Regions from separate parts of the Homo sapiens genome. Here all the other regions are linked to region 1. Evidence: fine-mapped expression QTL. A gene starts in region 1. Each other region holds a variant in brackets. All regions are shown on one strand. Distances are from middle to middle.

Region 1 (4,063 bases):
GCTGGGAAGCCCCTCAGAATTCCGACACCACCACAAGCATCCTCGGGAGGAAGCTGTGCCAGCACATGCTGGGCACACAGGGCTGGCACCGAGAGGCAGGAGGGCTTGATGAGGAGGCCGTTCCTTGTGGCTCACGGAGGGCTCTTGGCCGTTTCCGCGTGGCACCCAGAAGCTGCTCACCAGCTCTAGAAGACGTGGGGCGATGAATCCAGACCCTGGAGGAACTGCGCCCTCGTCCAGCATAACTGAGGTGCCAGGACACAGGACCGACATCGCACCCTCCACTTGGGTCAAAGCTTTATCACTGCAGGCGAGTGTGCGGGCGCCCGGGACAACTCGCAAAACGTCTGGAAGTTCCCACCACTCCCCAGAACAACAGAGACCAAAGCCCACAAATCTTTAAAGGAAAGCAGCAGGTGCGTAAAAGAAAGAGCCTGCGGCCCCTGCCCGAGGCCCCTCCCCACGTGCCCAGCCCTGAGCAGCAGCAGCGCTGAGTGACCCAGGTGTGGGAAATGCCTGCTGAGGGGTTTTAGGCCGCAACAGCCGAAGCTGACACGGCCGACTCCAGGAGCCTGTGAGTTCTGCATTTTACCAACCGCATGCACGTCTTTCCAGGAGTGCTTGCCCTATGGCTGCCCCCCAAATTATGGGGTTACCTTTGCCCCCTATTCAGTGTCTATATCCTCACCCCAAGCCCGTGAGGTGACCTGGGCACTCGGTGACAAAGTCCTGTGCTTGTGGGGTCCCTGGTGCCTTCCCTTTGGGGTCACGTCAGCCCGGCGTTCCCCCGGAGGCACAAGTCTGGGTGGCAGCTGAGAGGCGTCAGGGGCACATCCAGACCTGACAAAGGAGGCGGCCCCAGCCCTGCAGCAGAGGGCCCAGGAGCCCAGGGGCTCAGCTCCAATGTCCAGGTCTGAGCACCAGGGTGCAGCGGGATCAGGCTCCTGGAGCAGAGTCTGCCTGCCACTTCCGCCTCCTTCCAAGACAGGGACTGGGGCGCTGCAGGCCCTGTGGGGCCCACAGAGAGAGAGCTCAGGGACAGCTGGCTGAGGCCACCCTCTGTGAGACTCCTCCTCTCCAGCTCCAGCCCACTCCACCTTGGCTTGCTGCCCAAGCTTCCAAACACCCAAGGATGGGGGAGGCTGCACCTGACTGCTGACTCGGTGGACCAGGGTGGGCCCCAGGGTGGGCATTTTCAATAAGGTGGGGCTGCCTGGCTGGACGCAGGGAGTCTGCCCAGCACCTGCCCCACTCCCAGCCTCCGGCTTCAGTGCCCACCTGGCTCCCGGGGAGCTGAGCCCCTGAACTCCCTGCCAGGCCAGAGTGACAGCCCGGGTGACCGACCAGGGGACAGAGTGCTGGGAATTCACGTCCCTGAACACACTGCACCCTCCCACTCTGCGGTCAAAAGCCCTGCTGCTCCTTCAAGCCAGGAGCATGGATTAAGTACCTACTGTGTGCCTGGCCAGCCACACGGACGGGGAGCTGACAGCCGGGCCCTGAAGCCGCCCTCTCTCCTGTGGGAGTTCTGGGGGTGGCCGGGGAAGGTGAGATTCTCCTCCACCCTCCCTGCCTCTTGGCCGAGCTTGGGGCTATCCTGGCTCTTCTGACCGCGGCACTACCGTGGGCCGGGGTCACCCTGGCGCTGAAGAAAGCCCCGGGGGGCCTTTGGGGCAGGAAGAGGTCAAGAGCCCCAGGACCCCCCAGGGTCCCCCAGGACCGGGGAGGGTCGGGTGCCCAGTGGGTCTCTCCGATGCCTCCAGGTGGGGATGAGGCAGCGTTATTGCCCCACCCCCAACATCCCCGGGCCTCCGAAAGACCCTCGCTCAGGAGAGACCCCGGCCCAGCGACCGCCCCGCCCCCCACCCCGGGCCCCGCCCCCCACCCCGGGCCCCGCCCGGCCCTGCCCAACGCCGCTGCAGAGGCCACCCCGGGACTGCGGCAGCCCCGCCCGGCAGCAGCGGGGGTGGGACGGGGGCGGCGGGAGCCGGCGAGGGGGTCTGCCCGTCCGAGCTTTCCTGGGCGCCGGCTCCGCCCCTCGACCCTTGGGGCCCAGGTGGGGCGCAGACCCCGTGGCTCCCCGCGGAGGCCACACGCCTGGCTCCGCCCCCGGTGCCTCCCCCAGGAAGGAGCGACGTTCCCTAGGCGCCGGGTCCGGACAGCGCCGCGCAGCCCCCGCGCACCCCGCGCCCCCCGCGCCCCCCGGGCCCGCCCCGTATCCCTGACCGCGTCCCCTGGAGACACTGCGGCAGCGGCGGGCGGGCGGGGGCGGGCGAGGGCCGGGCGCGTCTCCATGGAGCCAGGGCGCGCGTAGCCGAGCCCAGCCCAGCCCAGCCGGAGGCCCCGGGGGCGGTGCGCGGCGCGGCCGCAGGATGCAGGCCATGGACCCGGCCGCGGCGGATCTTTACGAGGAGGACGGCAAAGACCTGGACTTCTACGACTTCGAGCCGCTGCCCACCCTCCCCGAGGACGAGGTGAGCCCCCGGCCCCACTGGGGGGCCCCTTCCGCCGCCGAGGGGTCCGCGGAGAGCGCCCGGGGGGAGGACCCGGGAGGGGCTGTGAGCTCCCGCCTCCCCAGGCGCCCTCCATGGCCGAGGGGTTCCCACCGCCGTTCTCAGCCCCCGCGTTAGGATTTTCACCCGGAGGGGACAGCACCCCCGAATGCGCACGGGACGGCGGCGGGTGGGCAGCCCCTGCAGAAGTTGGTGCGCGGTAGCTCCTGGTGGAAACCCTGGCGGGACAGTGTGGGGGCAGCAAGGAGGACGGAGGGGGGTCTGCTTACTCCCTGCCGGGCCCCAGGAGGCCAGCGGGGTGCAGAGCAGCAGAGTCCAATCAGGCGCCGCTCAGGAGCTGGGGGATGAGGTCCCCGGAGCTGAGGTTCAGGAGCGGGGGGTGGGGGGAGCGCTGGATGACTGCCCCCCGAGACTGAGAGCTGCTTCCTGCTCTCTGGTTTTCCGGGCCTTCACCCAAGACCCCCCTACCCCGCAAGGTGCAGAGGGGCTCTGCCTGCCATCTGCATACCCTGGCGCTTCTGCTCATGGACCGCCCACCCTACAGCACCGGCTGCCCAGACGCCACCTTGGCTGGGTCTGACCCTGTAGCTCAGCTCTGGCTTGGCTGGGATGGAGTGGACAAGCCAGGCCCGGAAGCATGAGAGGTGGCCCCCAGGGGATACAGCAGCTCCCAGAGGGACCCTCACCCTCCAGGGATCCGAGATCTGCCAAACCTCCAACAGGCAAGAGCCCAGACGCTGGGCGCCTGCGTCTCCGGGTGACAGCGTCGTCACCTGCAGCCATTAGTGGGATGTTGTGGCGCCCTCTCTTTAAAGCCGGCCAAGTAAGCCTGGAGCAGGGAATCCCGGCTGCAGCAGCCGCGGGCCTGACCCCCTCGCAGTCCCCACCTGCTGCCCCAGGGGAGTGGGCTCTGAAGGGACCGGGAGTTTCTGCTGTGGAAGCACCGTCCTTCTGGGAAGGTTCAGCCCCAGGAGGCCCTCGGCCCAGCCACCTAGAAACAGCTGAGGCTGTGCGGGGGTTGGCGATGCCCCCGCCCCCACCATGGCCTGGATTCGGTGCAGTTGAAGGCTGCAGAGAGGAGCAGCCAGGGGAGGCAATAAAGCTTCCAAGATCACCTCGGCTCTGACCGAGAGGGAGGGGCAGCCCGCAGCCTTCAGAAACGCCCCAGGACACATCCCAGGGTATCTGTTAGGAGGCGGCCCTGAGGACGCAGCTCTTCCCACAGCTCCTTCGTGCATCAGAGGCCTGAGCCTTGAGGGCCTCCCCGCTCCGCACACGGAGGCAGCAGCCGGTGCCACGCACACAACACGCCGCGCCAGGCGCGAGCCCACTTGGAGCCACAGGCTGTCTTTCTGCACACTCCCCACTCCCGCTCCCCACCCCCACGCACACACCAGTGTCCTCGGGCCGGCCGGACAGCTCCCGGCCGGCACAGTACTGGGGTGGGTGGCTCCATCCTGTGACGTCCACCAAGGCCTCCAGGTGAACTGTCATCCCACCGAGTTTGCAGCGTGCAGTGGGAACGTTCAGGTGGGCCCTTCGCAGACACT
Region 2 (4,063 bases), 36 kb after region 1:
AAAACATATAGAACTGAGTGAAAATGAAAATGCAACATATGGCGAACCAGGATTTTTGTGCCAATGGCGATGTGCTGGCTGAGATACTGGACTATATCAGTATCAGTATTTTGCAAGCTGCTACTGTTGTGGAAACTGGGTACAAAGTACATGAGCTCTATTATTTATTAAAACTATGTACAATTATCACAAAATAAAAGGTTAATTTTTTAAAAGTGTAACAAGTGCTCAAAATGGGTGATTTCCTACTTATCTGACTCTAGTTGGCTGTTCTATGCTCGTGGGGCTGTCTGCGTCTGCTGTGCCTGGATGGGGGAGACTCTGTAAAGGGGAGCTGCCTCTTCCCAGCTCCACACTCAAGGGCACTGCATTGGTAGCCAGAAGTCAGCCACGTGGGAGTACTTACACCAGGGAAAGCAGCAAACGCTACAAATGTCTTGTTCTGTTGACTCTCTGGACTTACTGAAGTGATGGAGAACACGTGGATGATGTGATTAAACTTAAAAGTGTGTCATGTCTGTGGCCGCTCCCTTGAGAATAGCCCAAAAGGTGGAGGACATGGTCTTACGATATCAACCGCGACCATCTGATTCAGCAAAGACGTCGCTCAGAGGGGTGCCCCGAATTCCAGCATGGGTCTGTCCGGCTTCACTTCCATCTCATTTACTGAAATGAATGAAAACATCAACCAACACTCATGTCAGCAGCACTCGTGTATTGTGGTGGACTGTGGATGAACATGGGTTTCATTGATTTTTATCAATGAAAGCCTTCAGTGAGAATTGACTGGCTCTGTGGAACTTACAAAACGTGCATCAAATGGTGTGCTGTGCATCCCTTACATCAGCAACGTGCCGGATGAACTCAGTTTGCACACAGGCGGTGTGTTCGCTCGGAGAGCCAGTTGTTAGCCATGTAGCAGCACGGCACCAGTCGGGGGGCTTCCGGGAGCAGGCACCAGTCGGGGGGCTCCCGGGTCCGTGAGGTGGGGGCTATGCTGGCCAGTTCTCCTCAAACCCTCGAGCTGCTGCCTTCGTGAGGAGAGTGGAAGGTGGGAAAGTCCAGTTGAGGCTTCCAACCCTCTGGTGTTTAAAACGCGGACAGAACCATGGGGGAGAGTTCGACCTGCAGGTTCCTGGACCACGACCTGGAGGCGGATGCAGGGGTCCAGGGTGGGGCCTGATAGATGCTGAGGAGGGGTCTTGAGGAGAGCCCCTCTGTGGGGGCAGTGCCTGGGTGCCCCTCAGGGTGCCTGAGGTGGGCAGGTCTGCTGGGCACAGCAGCCCACAGCCCTGCGGTAGACACTATTCTCTCCCCACCCGCCCAGGCCTCTGTGTACTGTGTGGCCGCCGTTCTGTGGACCGCAGCCAAGTTCAGCGTCCCCCGCAACCACAAGCTGGCCCTGCCACGCAGGCTCAAGACCCTCCTCCTGGACATGGCCAGGCGCAGTGCCCCGGAGCGGCCGTCCGCGGCTGAGGCCATCAAGGTAACCACACCACAGTCATGGCCCCAGCCCAGGGTCCAAGGACTGTGGGCAGTGGCCGCCCTCGCTGAGCTGGGGGTGGAGGAGCACGGGCTGCCAGTGTCCAGGTGATGAGGCCACCAGGTCTGTTTCTAGGTCCCTGTTTCTAGACGTCGGCCTGGCCGTCGCATGGGGAAGGGAGTGGGTTTCGCGTCATGGCCACGTCCATGTGGGTGGACAGCATGGGGGTCTCTGCTGCTCCCCACCATGGCCGTTCCTCCTGCGGAGCCCGCTCTCTCCAGCTTGTCCAAGAGGCCAGGGCGGGGGCAAGGGGTGTCCTGTGGGCACGTGCAGACCCCTGCTCTTAGGCCCTGCTGGAGGGGAGCAGAGAGAGGCCTCCACACCTCACCCCCCACCCCGAACCCCCACCTCCTCTGAGGATCCCACCAGCCCCGCCCCTCCCTGCCTGGTCTCCCTGCTGGACTCAAGCTTTGGGGCTGGGTTCTAACGTACTCCTGCTGGGACCTGCACCCGCACCCGGCATGGGGACCAGCGGGTGGACCAGCAGGTGGGGCAGGAGCCAAACTCTCATGTGTCAGTGATCAGGAGGACCTCCTGGGGAGGAGCCGAGCTGGGTGTGGGTGATCAGGAGGACCTCCTGGGGAGGAGCCGTGTCTGGGGGAGCGGAGACGGCCATGGGGTTGGGGACCTGGGTCCAGCCGTCTCCGCCTCGACTGCTCTGTGGTCTTGGGCGGGTTGCTCAGACCCTGTGGGCCTCTCAGGCCTCCTCTGCTGCAGGAGGATGAGATCTAGACACGGCTGGGCGTCTGCCAAGCAGTGAAAGCAGATTTTATTCAGTAACTACTGAGAGCTGGGGAAGCTGAGCTCAGTTCCCA[T/C]GTGCACAAGGCCTGAGCTTATAAAGGGAGGACAGGAGTGGCCGGGGGCAGGGAGCGTGGGGCTCAGGCGAACGTGACCAAGGGCTGCCAGTGTCCAGGCGACGAGGCTACCAGGTCTGTGGCCAACGCTGGGTTTGGGATTCTGCCCTCCCAGGGAGCCTGGGGGACAGTGGCCGACTGTGAGCCCTTTTCAGGAAATGCTCTAAGAAAGGCTTGTCCGGGGCCTGTAGTTGGGTGTCGGTGAGAACAAACAGGAAACCCTCCTGGCAGCCCTGAGCTTTTTCAGATGGGGACCCAGTGACACGGGGACGGTGCAGCCGTGGCTGAGGCCTGTCGGGACGTGTGAACTGTCTCCTCCCTCCAGGTGTGCGGCAGCTACCTCCTCCAGCGAGGCATGGACAGCCGGAAAATCCTTGCCCACCTCAGAGCTTCCATCTGCCAGGTGGGCTAGAACAGCCAGGCCGCCGCCTCCTCCGCCGCGCTTAGCTTCCTCCCTCCTGGACGCACTTGCCCTTGCCTGGCCGCTCCCGGCAGCCCCACACCCCGGTCTCTGTTGACCACCGAGCTGTGGGTGGGTGCATCTGGGGGTGCAGGGGGACACTCGAGTCCCATCTAAAGGCCCCACAGTGGCCCCCAGGGACCCAGATCAGGATCAGGGCAGGGTCCCAAGGACGGCGGCCCAGCACCCACCCCGGGCGCAGAGAGCTTTGGGAGTGTGGGCCCTGAGTCTCGGGTGGTGCTGGCGTCTCCCACTCCCTGGAACCCACGGAAACCTGGTTGGCTTGGGAGGCAAAGGAGCCCCAACGGCTCCCTCTCCAGGCAGAGCCGCTGCAGAGCTTGGGCCGTGTGGCCGCCATGCCCGGCTCCTCCCCAGCAGGAAGCTCCACGGCACCGGCGGGTGGTGGGGGACGCCCTGTGGGTGTTGCCGGCGCTGGCGGAGCTCCGTGGTCACCTGGCCCAGGGCTGTCACCTCCTCCCCAGGTGTACCAGGAGGAAGAGACCATCAGCCTCCAAAACGCCTTCTCAGTGGTTGAACTGAAGCCCAGTGTGGCACCAGCCCCAGAGCCCAGCCCAGGTGGGGACCTGACCAGCCCCTGCTGCCCCACCAGCTCCTGCACCTGACACCACAGCTGCCCCCACCTCTGCATGGACAGACACAGCCGGGCACCTCTCGGAAACCCGGGAAGCAAGTCCAGAGCTCGGCCAACGTGGCCCATGCAGCCCAGCCTGCCTGCCCCTGCCAGCCCCCATCTCCCAAAACTCCCAGTCGCTCAGGCCCCAGCTCCAGGTTCTCACTCCCATCTCCCAGCAGCTGGCCCTCCCAAGCCCACATCTGGAGACCCCCAGAGTCCACACAGAGCCCACCCCACCCCCGTACTGAGCCCTGCTCAGCAGGCCCCTCCAAGGCTTCTGGTGGGGCCTGGTCTTGCTGGCCCGTCCCCGCCTGCTGGCCCTCCCCCAAGCACCAGTCTCACCCACCCTCCCATTCCAGGGCCCAGCACAGAGGAAGCCCCCAGGGCCATGCGGGAGGGGACGCGGCACCACGCACTGGGTGGGATGAGCACTGGGTGGGATGAGCCGGTGGTGCGGCACGTGCTGGGGCCACTCCGCCCGCCCACACCCTCAGCCCCCTGGCTCCCCAGGCTTCCTGCCGGTGAACAGCGACACCGGGCTTGTGGCTGTGCCAGGGCCCGTGCCCGGCCAG
Region 3 (4,063 bases), 26 kb before region 1:
GATGCAATGGAGCGTGGGTGCATGCCGGCCTGTGTGAGTGTGCTTGCCCGTGTGCCTGCGTGTCAGACGCACTGGAGCGTGGGTGTATGCCGGCCTGTGCGAGTGTGCCCGTGTGCCTGCGTGTCGGATGCAATGGAGCGTGCGTGCATGCCGGCCTGTGTGAGCGTGCTTGCCCGTGTGCCTGTGTGTCGGATGCAATGGAGTGTGCGTGCATGCTGGCCTGTGCGAGTGTGCCTGTGTGCCTGTGTGTGTGTGAGTCCGTGTGCCTGCGTGTCGGATGCGATGGAGTGTGCGTGTATGCTGGCCTGTGTGAGTGTGCTTGCCTGTGTGCCTGTGTGTTTGTGAGTGGCTTGTGGGTTGTGTGGGTGTTGACGTGTTAGTGTGTGAGAGTGTGCGCCTGTGTGGTGTGTAGGTCCCTCTGTGGGAGTTGTGTGCACACATGCACGTGTGCTTGAGGGTAAGTGTGCATGTGTGTGCATGCTCTTTGGAGGAACACTGTGAGGCGGCCCCTCCGCCCTGTCTCCGTGCGGGTGTGTAACTACCACACGGCAACACTGTGGTGACTTTAGTCAGCTTAAAGGACTAGGAAGCAGAAGCTGCCTGTGCCTCCAGACCCTGACAGTTCTTCTCTGGAGCAGTCCTAGCTGAGGAGGCCTCCAGTCCTGGGAGACACACAGTGGCATCTGCCGCGTCGCCCACGAAGGCCCCAGACAGGGCTCAGATCTGGTCGGCCTGCTCTGTCTCTGAATGAGCCACCCCTGCAGGGGCTTTGGGCAGCTGAGGAGCCCCCACTGGTTCTGCGGGGAAGGGGCTGGGTTGGGGCCCGCACGTTCCACCTGCCTGAGCAGGACTGAGGAGGGATGCAGGCTGAATGGGAGCACTGGGCCCCTGGGAGGGCCTTGGCAGAAGGCAGCTCAGCAGCCACACGCTAGGCTGCAGTGTCGCCCATCAGTGACAGCAGCTGCAGGAAGCCTGTCTAGGGACCCTGGAAGGAGCTCAGGGCCCTGCACTGATGTGGTGAATGCCCCCCATGTGCAGAGACTGGCTGCAACGGGCACTTCCACACCTACCCAGTGCCCAGATGGTGCCTGACCGGTCCTGCCACTTGCTCCCTGACCCTTGGTGCTTGCATTTCTCGGGGGACGCTGTCGGGACCAGCATTGGCCTGAGCTGGAACAGTGGGTGTGTTCACTGTGCGGGGACTGTGGACCCTGCTCCTCCACGTCTCACGTGGACCCTGCTCCTCCGTGTCTCACGTGGACCCTGCTCCTCCGTGTCTCACGTGGACCCTGCTCCTCCGTGTCTCACGTGGATCCTGCTCCTCTGTGTCTCACTTCATCACGCTTCCCTTCCACTGCACTGCCAGGGTTTGTACCTGAGCCTAGAGGCTTCTGCAGAGCCTTTACTGCACAGGCACCTTCGGCCAGAAATTCTGCCTGTTGTATTCAAGACCAAGGACTGTTCTGTAGCCTTTGAGGTGGGTGGGGTGGGGGTACCTTGGGCAGATGGAGGCCGGCCCTGTGTCTGCAGGGGCAGCGTGTGCCCAGGGAGGCAGGGGACGGGGTAGGGGGAGGGAAAGGGTGAGCACCCCGTGAGGACAGACAAAGTGCTGTGAGGCCAGGTCAACGGTGGGGTGGAGGCGGGGCCTGGTGGGCATCTGGGGAGGCTACTGGGCACAGGGACAGAGAAGCCAATT[C/T]GGAGGGTCCCTGGGGCCAAGTCTGAGCAGGCATCTGAGTGCTGTGGTTGTTCAGGGCAGGCGGAGCAGGAGGGGCATAGGAGGGCCTGGCACACGTGAGAGGCCTGTCCCTCGGGCCACAGCTAGAAGATCAGTGTCTCCCAGTGAGACAGGTCAGGCTGCAAGTGGGCTCAGCAGCAAGACAAGCCCTTCATGCCCGCCGTGCTGGCTCCTCTGGGCCTGGAGGGAGGGCTGCTGGGTGAGCTGGGGCCCACCAGGGCAACTCCCAACACTGGCTGTCCAGGCCTCCTGGGGGCTGCAGGGCCAGTGCCTGAGCACAGACGTGGCTGCCCACAGACGGTCCTGCAAGGACTCAGGACCCCAGACCCCAGGCTGCATCCCCCCGGCCACAGATCTGCAGGCGGCCGACTTCCAGAGGACAAGCAGCACCGCTCAGGCCCAAGTGGGCGCCGACTTGGACCTCACACCTCTGTCCTGTGTCCCAGGAAATGACTGGGGTTGCCAGGGCCTGCCTTTCCTTCCCACTCCCATCCCAGGACGTGGGTACTGGGAAAACCACTGTTAAGAGGACACTCTTAAACTCACTCTAATTACTTCTTTTCTACATAAATATCAACAACTTCCCCTGTAATCGCAACAGACACCTTGCTCCCTACTCACAACTCCAACCACACCCAACATAGCCCTTCAGGGAGGCCTGCAGGTCAGAACCGGCAGCAGAGGCACCCAGAGCTCAAGTCCCTCCCTGCCAGCCGCCCCCCAGCCTCTCCCAGACAGGGTCACTGAACAAGCCACAGAGTGGTGCAGGGCTGACATCGGCCAGGGACAAAGCAGGTGAGTACCCATGTCTGCGCCCTGGCTCAGAGATTACTCCAAGTCCAGGTCCTAGAGGGGTGAATACCCCTGGTGTGGGATTGGCTGGTTTAGTACTCATGTCTCTGTCATGGTCCAGAAAGTACCCTTGGTCTAGGTCCTAGTGGAGTGAGTACCCTGGTGAGGGATAGCCTGGGTTAGTACCCATGTCTCTGCCCTGGTTCGGAGAGTACTCGTGGCCCACGTCTTCGTGGAGTGAGGAACTCTGGCACGTAGTGCCTCCCTGTTAGGGTTAATGCTCGTATTGGATTCATAGTGAGCTGTGTTGCTGGGTAAAATACTCGAGGTGACAGTAGCAGTCTGTGCTGCTGTAGGATGAGGACACATTTTCTGGGCTACTTTCTTGGTGCCACTGGTATGGGCTGAAATTTCACCCTCCGTGTGCCCAGGTGGCGGCGGTGGTGGTGCGTTTGCATGTGGTGGGCTGGAGCTGCGCCCGTGTGTTCTTCTGTGTGTTTGGGAGGCTGAGTTCTCGTGGTCTGAGTCGTCTCAATTGAGTACTAGGTCCTGTGTCACGTGGGCTGTGTATCTGTGGTCTGTGTCTCCTGGTAAACACTGTTTAAAATGAGTTCCGGGGTCTCTGCCTCCAAGGGAGTGCGGGACGCTGGCGTGGGCTGAGCTGCCAGGGTAAAGAATCCACTGCAGCACCTGTGGCTTCAGTGCCTCGGTGGGGTGGGGCCGATGGCCTGCAGGTGAGCAGTGTTAAAGGAAACATGGTTCAATGATGCTTGTTAAAACACGGCAGACTTCATTCGGGGCCACTGGGTCCCTGGGTGTGAGACAGCCTGGGCTGGTACCATAGGGGAGCTGGTCTCCAGGTCCCTGTTGGGGGGGTCTGGTCTCTGGGTCCCTGTGGGGGGGGTCTGGTCTCTGGGTCCCTGTGGTGGGGGGGGGTCTCTGGGTCCCTGTGGGGGCGGCTGGTCTCTGGGTCCCTGTGGGGGTGTCTGGTCTCTGGGTCCCTGTGGTGGGGGGGGTCTCTGGGTCCCTGTTGGGGGGTCTGGTCTCTGGGTCCCTGTAGGGGTTCTGGTCGCTGGGTCCCTGTAGGCGGGTCTGGTCTCTGGGTCCCTGTGGGGGGGTTCTGGTCTCTGGGTCCCTGTGGTGGGGGGGGGGTCTCTGGGTCCCTGTTGGGGGGTCTGGTCTCTGGGTCCCTGTGGGGGCGGCTGGTCTCTGGGTCCCTGTGGTGGGGGGGGTCTCTGGGTCCCTGTTGGGGGGTCTGGTCTCTGGGTCCCTGTGGGGGCGGCTGGTCTCTGGGTCCCTGTGGTGGGTCTGGTCTCTGGGTCCCTGTGGGGGGGTTCTGGTCTCTGGGTCCCTGTGGGGGCAGCTGGTCTCTGGGTCCCTGTGGGGGTTTCTGGTCTCTGGGTCCCTGTGGGGGGGTCTGGTCTCTGGGTCCCTGTGGTGGGGGGGGTCTCTGGGTCCCTGTGGGGGGGTCTGGTCTCTGGGTACCTGTGGGGGCAGCTGGTCTCTGGGTCCCTGTGGGGGGGTTCTGGTCTCTGG
Region 4 (4,063 bases), 65 kb after region 1:
TGTGTGTGAGAGCCCATCCAGGCATGCTCTTCCCGGCGTGTGTGTGCATGAGAGCCCATCCAGGCATGCTCTTCCCGGCGTGTGTGCGTGTGCGTGAGAGCCCATCCAGGCATGCTCTTCCCAGTGTGTGTGTGTGTGAGAGCCCATCCAGGCATGCTCTTCCCGGCGTGTGTGTGTGTGTGTGAGAGCCCATCCAGCCATGCTCTTCCCAGTGTGTGTGTGTGTGAGAGCCCATCCAGGCATGCTCTTCCCGGCGTGTGTGTGTGTGAGAGCCCATCCAGGCATGCTCTTCCCAGTGTGTGTGTGTGTGAGAGCCCATCCAGGCATGCTCTTCCCGGCGTGTGTGTGTGTGTGAGAGCCCATCCAGGCATGCTCTTCCCGGCGTGTGTGTGTGTGAGAGCCCATCCAGGCATGCTCTTCCCGGCGTGTGTGTGTGTGAGAGCCCATCCAGGCATGCTCTTCCCGGCGTGTGTGTGTGTGAGAGCCCATCCAGGCATGCTCTTCCCGGCGTGTGTGTGTGTGAGAGCCCATCCAGGCATGCTCTTCCCGGTGTGTGTGTGTGTGAGAGCCCATCCAGGCATGCTCTTCTCGGCATGTGTGTGTGTGTGTGTGTGAGAGCCCATCCAGGCATGCTGTTCCCGGCGTGTGTGTGTGTGTGTGAGAGCCCATCCAGGCATGCTCTTCTCGGCGTGTGTGTGTCTGTGAGAGCCCATCCAGGCATGCTCTTCCCGGCATGTGTGTGTGTGAGAGCCCATCCAGGCATGCTCTTCCCGGCATGTGTGTGTGTGAGAGCCCATCCAGGCATGCTCTTCCCGGCGTGTGTGTGCATGTGTGTGAGAGCCCATCCAGGCATGCTCTTCCCGGCGTGTGTGTGCGTGTGTGTGAGAGCCCATCCAGGCATGCTCTTCCCGGCGTGTGTGTGTGTGTGAGAGCCCATCCAGGCATGCTCTTCCCGGCGTGTGTCTGTGTGTGTGTGAGAGCCCATCCAGGCATGCTCTTCCCGGCATGTGTGTGTGTGAGAGCCCATCCAGGCATGCTCTTCCCGGCGTGTGTGTGTGTGTGTGAGAGCCCATCCAGGCATGCTCTTCCCGGCGTGTGTGTGTGTGTGAGAGCCCATCCAGGCATGCTCTTCCCGGCGTGTGTGTGTGTGTGAGAGCCCATCCAGGCATGCTCTTCCCGGCATGTGTGTGTGTGAGCCCATCCAGGCATGCTCTTCCCGGCGTGTGTGTGAGCCCATCCAGGCATGCTCTTCCCGGCGTGTGTGTGTGTGTGTGAGCCCATCCAGGCATGCTCTTCCCGGCGTGTGTGTGTGTGTGTGAGAGAGCCCATCCAGGCATGCTCTTCCCGGCGTGTGTGTGTGTGAGAGCCCATCCAGGCTTGGCCTTTCTTTGCCGTAATGGACGCCCCTTTCTTTGTCCCTCACACTGGGCATGTGGTGTTTCCATCCAAAATCAGGACAGGGCGTCTGTCTGTGGCATCAGTGTCCCCAGGCCTGGCTGAGGGCTCCTGCTCGTGACTGGCCAGCTTTCTCCATTATATTCTATGGTGTGCTGGTCACTGTCAACCAGCTGTCCCAGGCTTCCGGCCCTGGGCCCCGGCCGTGGCGATTCCCAGGTGTGAATGTGAACGCTCTGCACGGCAGCAGAGAGTCCCTTGCCTGCCTCGTCCTCTCAGCTGCAGCCCCTGCGGCAGACTGGGCTTGACTCTTCTTGGGACGCTCAGCAGGGA[C/G]GAGCCTGAGCCTGCAGGGTTTCCATAAGCGTGTGTGGACTGAAATGTGGATGGATGGACAGTCAGACAGACGGAAAGGTCTGAGTAGTGACCTTTCCACCTCGCCAATAAATACAGACAACCCACCCTTCAGAATTTACACGGTGAAAAGATTTAGTCCAAATGATTCCTAAGAACGCGGGGGGACTCCCTCCCCACGGAAGCCGCGCCCCTGCCCTGTGCAAACTAACGTCTCTTCTTTCCTCAACGGAAGGAACATCGCAAAGGTGGTGAGCCAGGTGCACGCGTTCCAGGAGAACCCTTACACCTTCAGCCCCGACCCCAAGCTCCAGTCGTACCTCAAGCAGAGGATTGCCCGCTTCAGCGGTGCCGACATTTCCACACTCGCCGCAGATAGCAGGGCCAACTTCCACCAGGTCTCCAGCGAGAAGCACTCACGGAAGATTCAGGACAAGCTACGGAGGATGAAGGCTACATTCCAGTAGCCGAGCTCGGGCCTGGTGTGGAATTCCAGATCCGAATCCGACTGTGGGGGGCGGGCTGGGAGGTGGGAGCCGCGTCTCAGGCCCGGCCGTTATCAAGGCCCCTCCGCCCCCGAACCCTGGGGAGCTGGACCAGGAGGTGGAGGCTCAGGGGACCCCATGGGGACAGGCAGAGCTGGTCTCCTCCCAGCAGACGGAGCCAGGACGGGCACAAGAGTCTTGGAGGTTTGCGTGTTTCTGCTAGAATTAAAAAGTTAAATTTAAAAATGAAAATGAAAGACAGCTTCCCAGGAGTTTTGTGCCTGTCTGCGCCTCTCACACACAGATAAGTGGCTCTTACCCAGCTCTCAGTGACTCCCCCACAAAACAGCAACAGCCTCCACCGCCAACTCAACAAACTTCAGAGTAGCTCCTCCCTGAGCAGGTTTCTGAGCCAGCCTGGGTTGGCTGAGCAACGAAGGGCCAAAGCTGACCTCTGAGTGGCCAACTGCAGCTCCCAGGGACTCCGAGACCTCCGGTCCGAGACCCTGCCTGGGTTCACCCCCCACAACCCAGACCCAGAACCGCTCTCCCCTTCCCTGCCCAGTGCCCCTCCTCCCCAGCCCAGACCCCCAGGTGCCCAAGGCCTGCTGCTGGAGCAGGCACCTTGGGCTGGGCCTGCTCCCCCAGGGCCCAGGGCCCCCCAGCTTAGAACAGCCCTTGGTGAGGTGGTCATGCCCGGGCAAAGGCCCTGCTTCCTGGAAAGGACACTCAGAGCAGCTCCAAGACAGAGGCTCTGTGGCGGGGGTCCCTGAGAGTGCCCCCACCCATCTCATGCCCCAGGGACCGCCACTGCCCACCGCCTCCAGCAGCCATGCATGTGCGCCCGCAGCCCTGCCTCCACAGCTCGCCACACACTCACGCTTCGCCAGAGACAGGAAGTGCGCTGCCTCCACGGCCCCTTGCCCTTGCTCAGGTTCTTGGACCCCAGGCAGCTGGTGTGGAGCCCCTTGGCCAGGGCCATGGGAGTCCCGCGCAGTCAGCTCCACATTGGCCTCTGCAGCTGGGTGACCAGAGCCCCGGGCACGGCCCCAGCTCCGTGGGGCTCTCACGGTGCCAATCACAAGACCCAGGGTTGTGCTTTTGAGTTTTAGAATTAGTCATTCTTTAGAGCAGCCAGCTAGTGGCATTTCTAGGAAAACTGTGACCTGTGACAAATCGCTGCATTTTTAATGTCAAGATGTGTTTTCCCACATAAATTCACCGGAGACATCCGGGCCCCGCTTCGATGTAACATGAGAGGAAGTCGGCGTCCTGGCCACGAAATGCAGTTCACTTTTTTTTAGGCTTTTATATGGATTATGTTTTGCTGACCCACGCCCGCATTTTCAGATTTTGTATCTAACAGACAGTGCTCAGTGCAAATCAACATTCCAGCGGTCAGGACTGACCCCGGGGCAGCACTGGGCTCAGGCTTCAGCGCGACTGTCCGCATGGCTCCCTCCCGTCCTGGCACCAATTTCTGAATAAAGTCCTTTCTACCAGCTGCTGCTGTGTGGTCACTCTGCGGGTCCCCACGGTGACCTCTGCAGGTCGACACGTTTTCCTTCATGGCCGCACGAAGGCCCCTTACAGGTGCTCACAAGGACTCCAGGTGCGAGATGTGCTCAACCCAGGACTGAAAACGAATCTGCCGGTCCACAGCGACGCCCTCTGATGCCGCAGAGAAAGGCCCGGGCCTGCCAGACGTGTGTCACAACTCAGGCCCCGCCAGGAGGAAAGCTACCGCCAGCACTCCCAGGCCGTGGGAACAAGCAAACGCACCGGCTGGGGCAGGAAACACTTGCTTCTGGTTGTGACTGCAAACAGCCTAA
Region 5 (4,063 bases), 43 kb after region 1:
CCAGGTGGGATCCGCTCTCCAAGCAGAGGGGGGCCTGTGAGCCGGGGCTTTGGTGACAAGGCAGAAGTGGGCTTGTTAGCCCCAGGATCCCAGGGCACATGAGTGCCAGGCTGGGGACGTCCCAGCGTCCAGCCAGCAGGCTTGGTGTTAGGGACAAGGTGGGGGTGGTGGTCACCCTCAGGCTGTCCGTAGTCGTGGCCAGGCTTGGTGACGGGCCCAGTTCCTATCAAGTCGGAGACCAGGCGGGCAGGCTGGGGCATGAGGCCCGTGCACTCCTGGATGGCAGGAAAGCCCTGCACAGGGGAAGCTCCCGCAGGGACAGAGCTGGGGACCACTTTTTAAATTCCAGAAGAAAAGAGGAGAGCGTGAGGGGGCAGAGGGACACAGTCCTGATAGCAGAGCCAGCGAGGACAGGGCCCGGCCCCACCCCGGGGCGAGTACGAGTTTGGAAGCAGTGAGGGCGCAGAGTGGGGCTCCATCTGGGGAGAGGCCTCTCTCTGTCACCCGGCCCCGTGCGGCAGTTCAGGGTCCCAGCATCTCCCCTGCACTGGGAGGCGGCAGCCGTGCCCGGGGGGCGCCCGTGGTGGGCGGGTGCAAGAGAGAAGGGCGTCGGGTGTGCAAGCACCACCGGCCTCCCATTAACAGCCTGCCCGGGCTCCGCCCACAGGAGCCACTGTCCACGTAACCTGCGTCTCTTTCTTTCAAGGAAAAGAGAAGCCAGCCATGGCCAGGACCAGCAGCAGGGCCCCCTGCTCACCCACCTCGGTGTCGGATGTGGACTCGGACGCACTGTCACGGGGAAACTTCGAGGTGGGGTTTCGGCCTCAGAGGTCCGTAAAAGCCGAGAGAGCGCAGCAGCCTGAGGCTGGCGAGGACAGACGGCCAGCTGGCGGGGCCTCAGACGTGGAGGCAGTGACCCGACTGGCCAGGTCCAAAGGGGTCGGCCCAGCCTTGTCCCCCGGCCCAGCCGGATTCCAGAGCTGCAGCCCCGGCTGGTGCAGCGCCTTCTACGAGGCCGACTGCTTCGGGGCCGACGTCCACAACTACGTGAAGGACCTGGGGCGGCAGCAGGCGGACGGGGCCCTGCCCGACGCCCAGAGCCCGGTGAGTCCCAGGCCTTGGCACTGCCGGGTGGGGCAGGGCGTCTCCTTCCAGCAGAGCTTCCTGGTCACTGCAGGTGACAGATGGCACCGTGTGCCCAGAGCCCCCAACAGGGTGACACTGGTCCTGGTGCCCCCACCCCGTGGCTGTCAAGATGGTCAGGGCCCCCTCCCTGGGCTGAGCTCCACGTCTAGGGACAGGCTCGTCTGCACTGGTGCTCCTGGTGGCTCCACGTCTGAGGACAGGGAAGGGCTTTTCTCTCATGGTCGCCCGGGCGATGGGTTCACAGGAGGCCCCTCCATGCTCGTGACCAGGTTGCGTTCGGTCGTGTTTTCCGTGGGGCAGGCACAGCCTCCGGGCCCTTGGGCAGCCTCGCTCTGCAGTGAAAGAAAACACCAAAAACGCCTGCCCAGCAAGTCTAGACTGGGCCTGGTCGCTGCAGCCTGGTCCGGGCTTTCTGGCCAGCAGTGCCATCCTGGGTCAGGAGCAGCTGCAACTCCTCCCTGGCCAGCAGGGAGAGGAGGTCTTAGACCGGGGAGTCCTGGGTGCAGGAGAGGCCTGCAGAGCTCTGGACGCAAGGTGGGACCAGTGACCCACAGCCCCGACCTGGGCTGCATTCTCGAGAGCCCCGGGACTCCAGGGTGGATGACAGGAGGGGCCCAGTGGCCATCAGCTCCGGGAACCTCTCCTACCACCGTCTGCCTCGAGCTGAGCCACCGTGGGAAGCCTCCCCCAGCCTCTGGGCATCGGAGCCCTTCCTGGGGCTCCTCCTTGCTCCTCTCCTGCCGCCTCCTGGCCTGCACTTTATGACTCAGTCCAGAACATGACCCGGTGTCCCTTCAGGGCAGGTGAGGGGACAGGGGTTAAGCTCTGTGAAGCCTTCACTTCATTTCAGCTTCTGGGCCACGTGAAAGACCCGCATGGTGCTACAGCCTCTGCACCTGCATCTCGGACACCCCACACAGGGCCTGAGGGGGCTTCGAGGACGCAAAGGCCGCCCC[C/T]GGGGCTGGGGAGAGAAAAGGGCGGCCGGCACAGCAAACACCAAACGACCCGGCCCCCAAACGCAGGGAGTCCAGCAGGGAGCACTCAGCCCCCAAACTCACGGCGTCCAGCCGGGAGCACTCCGCCCCCAAACGCATGGCGTCCAGCGGGGAGCACTCGGCCCCCAAACTGGCAGAGTCCAGCGGGGAGCACTCCACCCCCAAACGCACGGCGTCCAGCGGGGAGCACTCGGCCCCCAAACGCACGGCGTCCAGCGGGGAGCACTCGGCCCCCAAACGCACAGAGTCCAGCGGGGAGCACTCGGCCCCCAAACGCACGGCGTCCAGTGGGGAGCACTCGGCCCCCAAACGCACAGAGTCCAGCGGGGAGCACTCGGCCCCCAAACTCACGGCGTCCAGCGGGGAGCACTCGGCCCCCAAACTCATGGTGTCCAGCAGGGAGCACTCGGCCCCCAAACACACAGCGTCCGGCCCATGGCCACAGCCTCACGTTTCTCTTGGAGGAGCTACTGTGTCTCTTTCAAAACAGGAGGCTCAGAAACACAGCAAGGGCAAAAACCACCTGGAGACAGACTTTCACATCCGCAGCCCAAAACGCACACGGTGCAGCGAGGGCCGTTCTCTGGGGCGGCTGGAGCAGCCGGTGGGCATTTCCTCCCTTCAGCGCTGACCCCCACCTACTGGTGCCGGCCGTGTGTGCTGGGCTCAGCACTGCGGGTGCCCTGGGGCTGTGGAGCTGGCATCCGCGTCTCCTGCTGTTAAAACAAGCGTGGCTCCCAGAGTCAGCGTGGACAGCACTGGTGTGGGTTCCTCCCCCGTCTGTCTGCACCGGTGAAGCCTGGCCTCGTGTTTCCCTCCTCACTGCCCCACATGTGGTGTGGATTTTAGTTACCGTGGATTTATTAAAATCAGTCAAGACCGTCCTCCTCATGGAGTCCGCCTGTGGTTCCCGCGTGAGGAGCGCCCCCGACGGACATCGAGTCTGACTGTGAACGGAGGCCGTGGAGGTGCCGGCCAGAGAGGAGTCTGCGTGAGCTGCACTCCAGCCAGGCGGGCATCGGGCTCGCAGGCACCCGCCTCCAGGTTCCTGGATGCGTCAGGGTACACAGACCTTTCCCAGGAGATTTTCTCGACATCAGCACCTCTGCAAATGGATGGGGGTGAGAGGGCTGGATGGAGCCTGGCGCCGGTGACCTCCGGGGGCCGGACGAGGGCCCCATGGTGCAGGCCATGGGGGAACGTGGCCACCACCATCCTCAGAAGCCAGGACCAGGTGCCCCGGCAGCAGAACACAGCTCCATGGGGACACCTGCGTTTACCAACCTCAACCTGCCCAGCCCGGTAGGTCCTTCCTTGATGATGGAATGTTCTAGACGCTGTCCACCGGGTAGCCAACAGCCACGTGTGGCTACTGAGCTCTGGAAACATGGCCCACGTGACTGAGGACCTGATGTTTTAATTTCACTGCACTTTAGGCAGCCACGGCAGCCTGCAGCTCAGTGTGGGAGGCAGGGTCGCACTTGGCTGGGTGGCAGCGGGGTCCGGAGGGCTTGGGGAACCTGGCTTAGTGGCCGAGGTTCTGCAGAGGCCTGGTCTTTACGCAGCTGGGACACTGCCCACACTGCCGTAGCGGGGAGCCTGGCCCTCCGTGGCACCGCCACGGCCGCTGCTGAACCCGTGCGTGGGAGAAGACAGCACAGGGACCCCGTCTCCATGGAACCACCAGATAGAGCGGATTCAAGTAGTTAAATAGAAATGTCGCCTGCATTTTTTTATTTTGCAAAAAACATTCAAAAATAAACCCTGTCAATAGCAGAGTCACTGGCGGCTGACAAGGCGAGGGGGTGGCTGTGTGGATCTGAGCCAACCGCACTTCACAAAAGGAAGCCTGGTGGACCGGCTCGCGGATGAGCCCCTCGGGGCGGTCGCTTCGGGCCCTGGGCACGTGAACCCCTCACAGG
Region 6 (4,063 bases), 94 kb after region 1:
CAGTGCTTTGAATGAAACCCAGCCTGTGAGCAGGAGGACAGGGACCCACCTCACCCACTGGAGGCCGCACAGCCTGGCTCCCACCCATCCTGGGGACCTCCTGCCGGAGATTTGCAGAGTAGGGGTGGAAGGGCCTGAAAGCAGAGGAGCCCCACCCGGGCATCCTTCCCACCATCCCGGGGCCTCCTGCTGCACCGCCAACCCCGAGAAGGCCTCAGCAGTCCAGCCAGCACCAGCCGGGGACTGTGTCCTGGTCCTTCCCCCATCAGCAGGGGTCAGGATGACCACCTGGGCAGGGGCCCTGCTGTGGGTCCAGACACTCCCTGGGTGCCTCAGACCCCAATAGCAGCCCCTCCACACCAAACACACCGGCCACCCTCCCTCCCTCCACCAGAAACAGAAAGGATCTCTGTGGGTCTGGCAGACGTGCTTGGCACGGAGCTGGCGGTGATAACGGGTGGCCTTCAGGCGGCTCCACTCCCTCCATTCCATTCCTTGTGGGGCCCGGTGGAGGCGGGTGGCGGGGGTGTCCCTGCAGCTGTCTCTGGCCAAAGGCAGCCCACTGTTAACCCTTGGTGGACTCTCCCTGCTGAAGTTCCCAAAGAGGGTGGCCTGCTCCTCCTGCATCGCATGTGGAGACCTCAGTCTACACTGGCCACACCCTGAGGCTGGGCCCAACCCTGCCCAGCAGCCCGTCCTGCCCCACACCTCATCTTGCCCTATCCCACCCTGCACCCCACCGTGCCCCGCTCTGCACCCCGGCCCGCCCTGCACCCCATCCCTCCCTGCACCCCAGCCCGCCCTGCACCCCGCCCCACCCTGCACCCCAGCCCACCCTGCACCCCGGCCCGCCCTGCACCCTATCCCTCCCTGCACCCCAGCTCTCCCTGCACCCCGTCCTGCCCTGCACCCCGTCCTGCCCTGTACCCCATCCCTCTCTGCACCCTGTCCTGCCCTGCACCCTGTCCCACTCTGCTCCTGACCCTGCCCTGCAGCCCCCACCCCATAGGTCCAGTGTCCCGGGAGTCAGCACTTCCCTCAGGTTATGTGCTGGTCCCACCGACCCCTGAGTTGCAGGCCGGGCGATGTCAATGGCTACCCCAGAGAAGCAGCCGAGGCCTAGAGCAAAGCTGACCGCTCCTGGACTCAGTTTCCCCACCTGTCAAAGGAGGTGCTGGAAATAGAGTTCCCTCGGAGATGGACAGAGTCTTACAAATGAAACCTGTGTCCACCGTGTGACCTGGCAATTCCACTCCTAAGCATTTACAAAGAGGAATGAAATCATCCGTCCCCAGAAAGACTTCAATAAGAACATTCTGGGACGGGTGCGGTGGGTGGCTCACGCCTGTAATCCCAACACTTTGGGAGCCTGAGGCAGGAGGATTGATTGAGCCCAGGAGTTTGAGACCAGCCTGGGAAACATGGTGAGACCTTGTCTCTACAAAAAATTAAAAAATAAACTAGTTGTGTGTGGTGGATGCACCTGTGGTCCCAACTATGCGAGACTCTGAGGCGGGAGGATCATCTGACCCAGGAGTTCGAGGCTGCAGTGAGCTGTGATGGTCCAAGGCACTCCAGCCTGGGTGACAGAGCGAGGCCCTGTCTCAAAAAAAAAAAAAGAAGGCTGGGCATGGTGGCTCACGCCTGTAATCCCAGCACTTTGGGAGTCTGAGGCAGGCAGATCACCTGAGGTCGGGAGTTCGAGACCAGCCTGACAGCCTGACCAACATGGAGAAACCCCGTCTCTACTAAAAATACAAAATTAGCCAGGCGTGGTAGTGGGCACCTGTAATCCCAGCTACTCGGGAGGCTGGGGCAGGAGAATCGCTTGAAACCGGGAGACAGAGGTTGCGGTGAGCCGGGATTGCGCCATTGCACTCCAGTCTGGGTAACAAGAGTGAAACTCCATATAAAAAA[A/G]AAAAGAAGAAGAAGAGAAGGAGAAGGAGAAGGAGAAGGTCTTCAAACAGGAACCACTCCAAGTCCCCAAGTCTCCTTCATCCACACAGAAATGGATAAAAAATCATGATGACTGTACAAGAAAGAAGCAGACACACAGGGTCTCGGGCCTCCCCAGAGCAGGCCAAACCACGTGGGGTGACAGGGCCCCCCCGGTAGAATGTTCCGTGGCCTGAGGATGAGGTAGTTACGCACTGGACGCATTTGCCAGAGCCCTGGGCTTGTGCACTTGAGACTGTTTATTCCGCAAAAAATAAATAAAATAGAAATAAAACTTGGGGCTGTGCGGCGGAGCCGTGGGGGTGCCCGCTCTGCGGTGGTCGGCTGACCCTGGGATGCCCTGGTCAGAATAACACGGGGCCCAGGGTCAGATGTGCGTCTCGGAAGAACACGGACCATTTCTTAGGATAAATATGTCCCATGAAATATTTAGGATGCATTCACACTGTAAGTTTTCATTGTTTCACTGAAATTTGAATTAATTGTGTGTCCTGAATTTTTACTTGCTACGTCTGGTGGCCCCACACCGAGTTTATGGAGAGGGCATGAGCTTGGAGCAGTGACCAGGACCCAGGTCGGTTCGTCTGTCTTCAGGGGGCTCCCGGGATCCAGGTCAGACTGAGGACCTGAGGCGTGCTGGGGCTGCCCCAGATCATGTGTGGAGGGCAGTGCAGCTGAGTGACCGGGCCCTGAGGCTCCTGAGGCTCTGGGACCCCATGGGATGTCCCCTTGGGAGCCAGGCCCTGGAATCTGTGCTCCAGGCCGGCTGTAGGGGAGATGGAGGGCTGGGCCTGTGCCCAGAGGCTGATCACCGCCTGGCTCCTGGCAGGGTCTGGGATGGTCTCAAGGGGCTGGTGGGCCAGGGGCTCAGCTGAGCCACCATAGGCAGCCCCCAGCCCCGGAGGGAGAGGGAAGCAAAGAGTTAATCCCCGGCCCTGGGAGAGCCCTGCCCTAAGCTCAGGGCTGGCGTTTCAAGGCTGCGTGTCTGTGACTCCCTCAGAGGAGATAATCACGGCTTCTTGATATTTTCTTTCTCTTCTCCTGTGCACACCCACATATCAGGAGCACTCGCTGGGCCATGAGAACTTTCCTCTGCCCTCCAAGGCCACGGCGGGCGGAAGGGGCCAAAGCCATTTTGTCCAGGAGCCTTTGTCCCCTGGGATTGCCTGGCCAGGAGCTGGGGCCACCGGGCTGGACCCCGTGTCTCATGTGCACACGTGCCACCCAACACACACACCACACATGTACACACTACACATATATATACACACCCCACACACCACACACCTACACACCACACACATACACACCACAAATACACACCCCACACACCACACATGTGCACACCACATATATATACACATCCCACCTGTACACACCACACATGTACACACCACATATATACATACCCCACACACCACACCACATGTAGACACACACCACACACATATACACGTCACATGATGTGTTTAGTACTACACACACACACCCCACACTCATACAAAGCACACTACATGCACACACACACACTTGCAGAGCCTACCCCTTTCTCCACCACCTGGGTCTGGACCCCACACTCGGCCCAGGTCCCAGTCCCAGGTCTCAAGCCCTTGTGTGGTCACTGCCGTCCGCTGCCAGGGGCTGGGGGTCTTTCTCACTGAGGACAGGGCTGAGCTCCCCCAGGCTGAGGAGGGCTCTGCCACCTCCAACCCCCGCTGAGCGGCTGCAGTCCCTGCTCAGTCTCCTTGGGTCCTTGGTGCCCCGAGCCGATGCCGGGGCTGACCCTCAGCAGCCCCAGTTAGGCTGGCCTCAGTTGGGTCTCTGCGTGTTCCTCTGGGAGCCACAAAAAGGCAGGTGAACTCGGCTCCACACTCCGCACCCAGGTCCAGCTGCCGGCACCGCTTGGTGGCCACCCAGGGCGAGGGTGGGATTACCCAGGATGCACAGCCCCTCTGCCCCGCGGTCCCGCCGCCCACCCTCCTTGACACCCCGCCACCCCTGCTTGGGCAGCCACGGGGAGCTGTTGGAGGGTGGAGTTCAGCACAGAAGGAGACAAAGACCTCCAGGGACAGATGGGGTGGGGGCCACCCTGCCAGGGCACTCTGGC
Region 7 (4,063 bases), 360 kb after region 1:
TAAGCAGCATACTGGACCCAAAGAAGGGCAGAAATCATGAAATACAAAATAATGAGGAAATAGAGAGGAACACAACCAAGGCTTGCTATTTGAAAAAGATTAATAAAGTAGAGAAACTGCTTCTGAGACTACTTAAGCACAAAAAAGCACAAATAAACAATGTTTGGGATGTCAAAGGAACATAATGATAAATACAACCATGACTGTAAACATAAGACAATACTAAAACAAATTTATGTGAATAAATTTGACAGCTTACAAGAAATCACAATTCCTAGAAAAAATGTAGTTTTCGTAATCAATTCAAGAAGTGTAGAGCCTGACCAGTTATGCTACTCTTAAATACATTGAATTATTAATTCTAAATGTTTTCACAAGTAAAAATACCATATGGTTTCAAAAGTGAGTTCTTCTAAAGCTGTTAGATCATTTCAATCTTACATAAACTCTTCAAAAGGATCAAATATGAATGAATGGTCATCAAATCATTCTTTGGAGCCTGGATAATTTTGATATTCAACACAGAGAAAGACAGAAGAGAAAACTATGGGCCAGCCTCATACTGAACATAGATGCAAAAATCCAAAACAACCTGTGAGTAAACCAAATGCAGCTGCCAGCCAGCCCTTCCTCTGGGTGCAAATCCGTCAATACATTAAAAAGACAAACTGTCAGGACCAAACTGTGTTTATTCCATACATTTATTCACCACTTTCACAAATTAAAGGGGAAAATCATCTGAACATTTCAAAAGAAGCATTTAATACAATTCAACATCTATTATTAACTTAAAAATTCTTAGTAGACTAGAAATAAAAGGTAATTTCCTTAAACTCAAAAAGTATACCTATCAAAACCTTACAATAAACATCATTCATAAAGGGGCAATGGCTACTGAGCGTCCTCTTAGAGAACTTCTGAGATGTTTCCCATTAAAATAAAAATCAAGGCAACAGTGTACTGAGGATCTGTTTGTGCAATAAGACAAGAAAAAGAAATTACAGGAATAAGGATTGAAAGATATAAAGCAAAACTCTCATTGGTCACAGACGACAGGATGGTCTACTGAGAAACCACAAAAGAATCTGCACAGAAATTATTGGAAATAAGAGAGTTTAGGAAGGGGGCTGCCTCTAGGATCAATAAGCAAAAATCATTTGTATTGCTATACACTAGCAATAAATAGTTGGAAAACATAATTTATCAAGAACTCTGCTTAGAAAACTCAACGTTAACTAAGAGTAAGGTTAACAAAAATGTGTACAATTTACATGCGGAAAATTATAAAATTTATTGAAAACATTTTAAAATGGCCTAAATAAATGGAAACAGATTCCACATCATGGATAGGAAAAATCAGTATTTTAAAGATATTTAATTCACAGAGTTTATGTGATTCTAATCAAAATCTCAAAAGACTTTTTGAGGAAATTTAACTAACTGAGTCTTAAAATTTGTATGCAAGGCACTCTTGAAATAAAAAACGGTGGTGGGACTCGAGGTATTGCTCCTCACAAGAGGGCATTAGCTGCAGGGGTGTGCCTGCAGACCCTGACCCAAACGATGGATGAATACAACGTACACTGACACAGAG[A/G]TATTCTGCTTTGCCAGTCCAGCTCGGTGTCCGACAGCCTACACACCAAGAGAGGTTTGTCACTGTGGCTGGCTCTGAGCAGCTTGCACTTCAGGCATTTATTTAGTATACGCTTAACAACAGAAGCTCTGAGTCAACACACTTGTGGATAATTAACATGGTTAAGACGGTAGTTCTATGAATGATTAAAGCTCAGGTACCACGGTTTAAATACCATTAGGGGGCAATTTCCCTGGTCAACCTCCTCCGCACCAAGAGGGCCATCTGGCTCAAAGGTTAGTTAATGGAGGTAGGGTAAACAGACTTAACTGGGGAAGCCTCTATTGTCCCTAGTATTTACCCTATGACCTAATGCTCTAAGGTAAGAACCCGCTGCCTTCAGCCTGTTCAATTATTACAAGCTATGTAACCTTTCAGCCTTCCAAAAAGGTTTGTGACTATTCCCTATAACTTTCCCTAATATGTCCCTTTAATATTTCTGCCACCATCCTGAGTGAATCACCACAGGACTTGCACTATTTGATATCAATACTACTATAAAGCTATAATAATTAAAATGCTATGGCATTGGACCAGGGAGAGACAGGCCTCTGATGCATTCCCTGTGTAAGAACTTTGTCTTGTTTTGGAAGATGATTTGGGGATCAGAGACAGGATCCTGGGACAATTCATATCTATATGGGAAAACAAACTTCCTTAGTCCTTACTATGTACAAAAATAAATTCTACATAGATTTAGGGCATAAATGGGAACAGTAAAACCTTATAAATAAGCAGTTATCTTTATCATCTTTCTGGCTAGGAAAGGATTTTTCTTTTTGAGACATGGTCTCACTCCAACACCCAGGCTGGAAGAAGGGATTTTTTTAAGCTCAGAAAGTGCTAATCCAAAAATGCAAGACTGATAACTTGAGAACATCTGTTGATAAAAAGAATGCCATAAATAGTATAGAAAAGTAACCTAAAGAATGGAAAAAATTATTGCAACACATAGAACTGAGGACGGATCAGAATAAAGCATTCCTGCAAACAATGAGAGACCAAAACCCCAAGGGAAGAGGAGAGCAAAATACATAAAATACTTGAGTAGGCATTTCAGAGAAAAGTATGTATAATTTTGACAAGACAGAGATAGGGAGAGAAAGTTTCTCTACTTTATAATCAGGGAAATGCAAAATGGGACCACAGTTAAATATCATTTTATATTGACTAAATCGGAAAATATTAAGAAATTTATTAGTACATACTGTTGGGAATAACAGGAACACTTAGACACCACTGGACGCAGGTAAATGGTTCAAATACTTGGAAAACAATCTGGTTCCATGTATATTAGGTTGCCCAGGTATACACTTGGCCTAGAGATATTCTTACACAGTGCTCCAGGAATCATGTTCAAAAATGTTCCTAGTCTGCAGTAGCAAAACCTTGGGAATAATCGGACAGGACAGTGGTTAAACAAAGTGCCACATATTCGTATCTGTGGAGTCACAAAGTCGAGGAACTGCAGCAACACCTCACTACGTGGTAACGAAAAACGATGAGCAAAAAAATTCAAGCCTCCGGGAATATAAATGTTATGAAATCCCTTTAAAAATCCAATTACACAGTATAAAAAAGAAAATCACAGGGAACATTCAAAGCAAAATTCGGGACAGCGGCTACCTCTGGAGGGAGGCAGTTGGATGTGCGAGCTTCTGGTAGACGCAGCTTGAATGAGATGTTGTTTGGGGTTGGGAGTGGGCTGCCTGGGGTTCATACGTCACCACACTTGATAATTTACAGAAGCCTTTCACGCGTTTTTTCCTGTGTCTCAAACGGGGTACCAGGAGGCTCAGGGAAACAGCGCAGGCGCCTCCCCGGTGGCTTCTCTCTGGCGCCCTCTGGTGGGCGGGGCCCGGGTGAGCGGGGTCCCCTCGGGGCCTCAGGGAGCCGCAGCCCCAGCGGAACCAGGAGGGCGCCCTCCGCCCAGCCGCGCTGCCACTTCCGGGTTGTTTGCTCCCGGAGCCATAACCGCAGCTCAGCGTGCGGGCAGAGCCGGCTGACAGGAGACAGGACACAGCACAGAGCCCCGCGCCCTCTGAGGCGGGAGGCTTCGTTCCTGCACCAGCGTGGCTTGCCCTTTGGACGCGGCGAGGTTGTGTGTTCTCTGCTTTTGTTTTACTTGGAACAGATGTTTGGCTTTTGTCAAGGTCGTTATTTCCAGTGAAGTATGGCATCGAACATCAGATAGTTGCCCACACAAATGTCTGTTTTAAGGTTCTCAACCTTTTGACAATACAAAACAAGAGGAAGTTTCCAGGGGAAAGCCCTCAAATCAGCCATTCTGAGCATGTTTTCAGCCCCATCCGTACTCTCCTCCCTTCTTATCCAGAGCCTTTTGGGTGCCCAGAAGAGTAATATTCTTCTGCCTCGTAGCTCTGTGGTCCAAGGGTTTATGGCTACTGATTATCCTCCTAGAGCACTTCT

The links.
Region 2: its variant is fine-mapped to the expression of KNDC1 in monocytes (TOPMed, PIP above 0.99).
Region 3: its variant is fine-mapped to the expression of KNDC1 in whole blood (TOPMed, PIP above 0.99). The same link has a PIP of 0.9 or more in blood mononuclear cells.
Region 4: its variant is fine-mapped to the expression of KNDC1 in whole blood (TOPMed, PIP above 0.99).
Region 5: its variant is fine-mapped to the expression of KNDC1 in whole blood (TOPMed, PIP above 0.99).
Region 6: its variant is fine-mapped to the expression of KNDC1 in whole blood (TOPMed, PIP 0.93).
Region 7: its variant is fine-mapped to the expression of KNDC1 in whole blood (INTERVAL, PIP above 0.99).

What each region holds. Positions count from the first base shown.
Region 1 is chr10:133,158,096-133,162,158 of GRCh38, forward strand. It overlaps KNDC1 (kinase non-catalytic C-lobe domain containing 1), which reads left to right and starts at 2,124. Exons shown (of 30, transcript NM_152643.8): 1 at 2,124-2,474. The coding sequence starts at 2,373. RefSeq lists enhancers at 2,495-3,084, 3,085-3,675.
Region 2 is chr10:133,194,336-133,198,398 of GRCh38, forward strand. It overlaps KNDC1 (kinase non-catalytic C-lobe domain containing 1), which reads left to right. Exons shown (of 30, transcript NM_152643.8): 10 at 1,328-1,486; 11 at 2,723-2,800; 12 at 3,340-3,433; 13 at 4,002-4,063. LOC105378574 (a long non-coding RNA gene) reads right to left here and starts at 2,001. Exons shown (of 2, transcript XR_946511.3): 1 at 806-2,001; 2 at 152-666. LOC105378573 (a long non-coding RNA gene) reads right to left here. Exons shown (of 5, transcript XR_007062351.1): 5 at 2,861-2,939. The variant T/C (reference allele first, on the strand shown) is at 2,359.
Region 3 is chr10:133,132,016-133,136,078 of GRCh38, forward strand. No RefSeq gene overlaps it. Among named protein-coding and RNA genes, the nearest start is that of KNDC1, 26 kb to the right of the region's middle. The variant C/T (reference allele first, on the strand shown) is at 1,697.
Region 4 is chr10:133,222,678-133,226,740 of GRCh38, forward strand. KNDC1 (kinase non-catalytic C-lobe domain containing 1) reads left to right here. Exons shown (of 30, transcript NM_152643.8): 30 at 1,982-3,735. The coding sequence ends at 2,213. Among named protein-coding and RNA genes, the nearest start is that of UTF1, 5.5 kb to the right of the region's middle. RefSeq lists an enhancer at 2,418-3,041. The variant C/G (reference allele first, on the strand shown) is at 1,729.
Region 5 is chr10:133,200,795-133,204,857 of GRCh38, forward strand. It overlaps KNDC1 (kinase non-catalytic C-lobe domain containing 1), which reads left to right. Exons shown (of 30, transcript NM_152643.8): 17 at 707-1,104. It overlaps LOC105378573 (a long non-coding RNA gene), which reads right to left. Exons shown (of 5, transcript XR_007062351.1): 4 at 1-1,478. Among named protein-coding and RNA genes, the nearest start is that of UTF1, 27 kb to the right of the region's middle. RefSeq lists an enhancer at 1-301. The variant C/T (reference allele first, on the strand shown) is at 2,103.
Region 6 is chr10:133,251,634-133,255,696 of GRCh38, forward strand. No RefSeq gene overlaps it. Among named protein-coding and RNA genes, the nearest start is that of MIR202HG, 5.8 kb to the left of the region's middle. The variant A/G (reference allele first, on the strand shown) is at 1,918.
Region 7 is chr10:133,516,830-133,520,892 of GRCh38, forward strand. It overlaps LOC105378575 (a long non-coding RNA gene), which reads right to left. Exons shown (of 5, transcript XR_946512.3): 2 at 2,842-4,063. Among named protein-coding and RNA genes, the nearest start is that of CYP2E1, 8.5 kb to the right of the region's middle. RefSeq lists a silencer at 3,374-3,573. The variant A/G (reference allele first, on the strand shown) is at 1,595.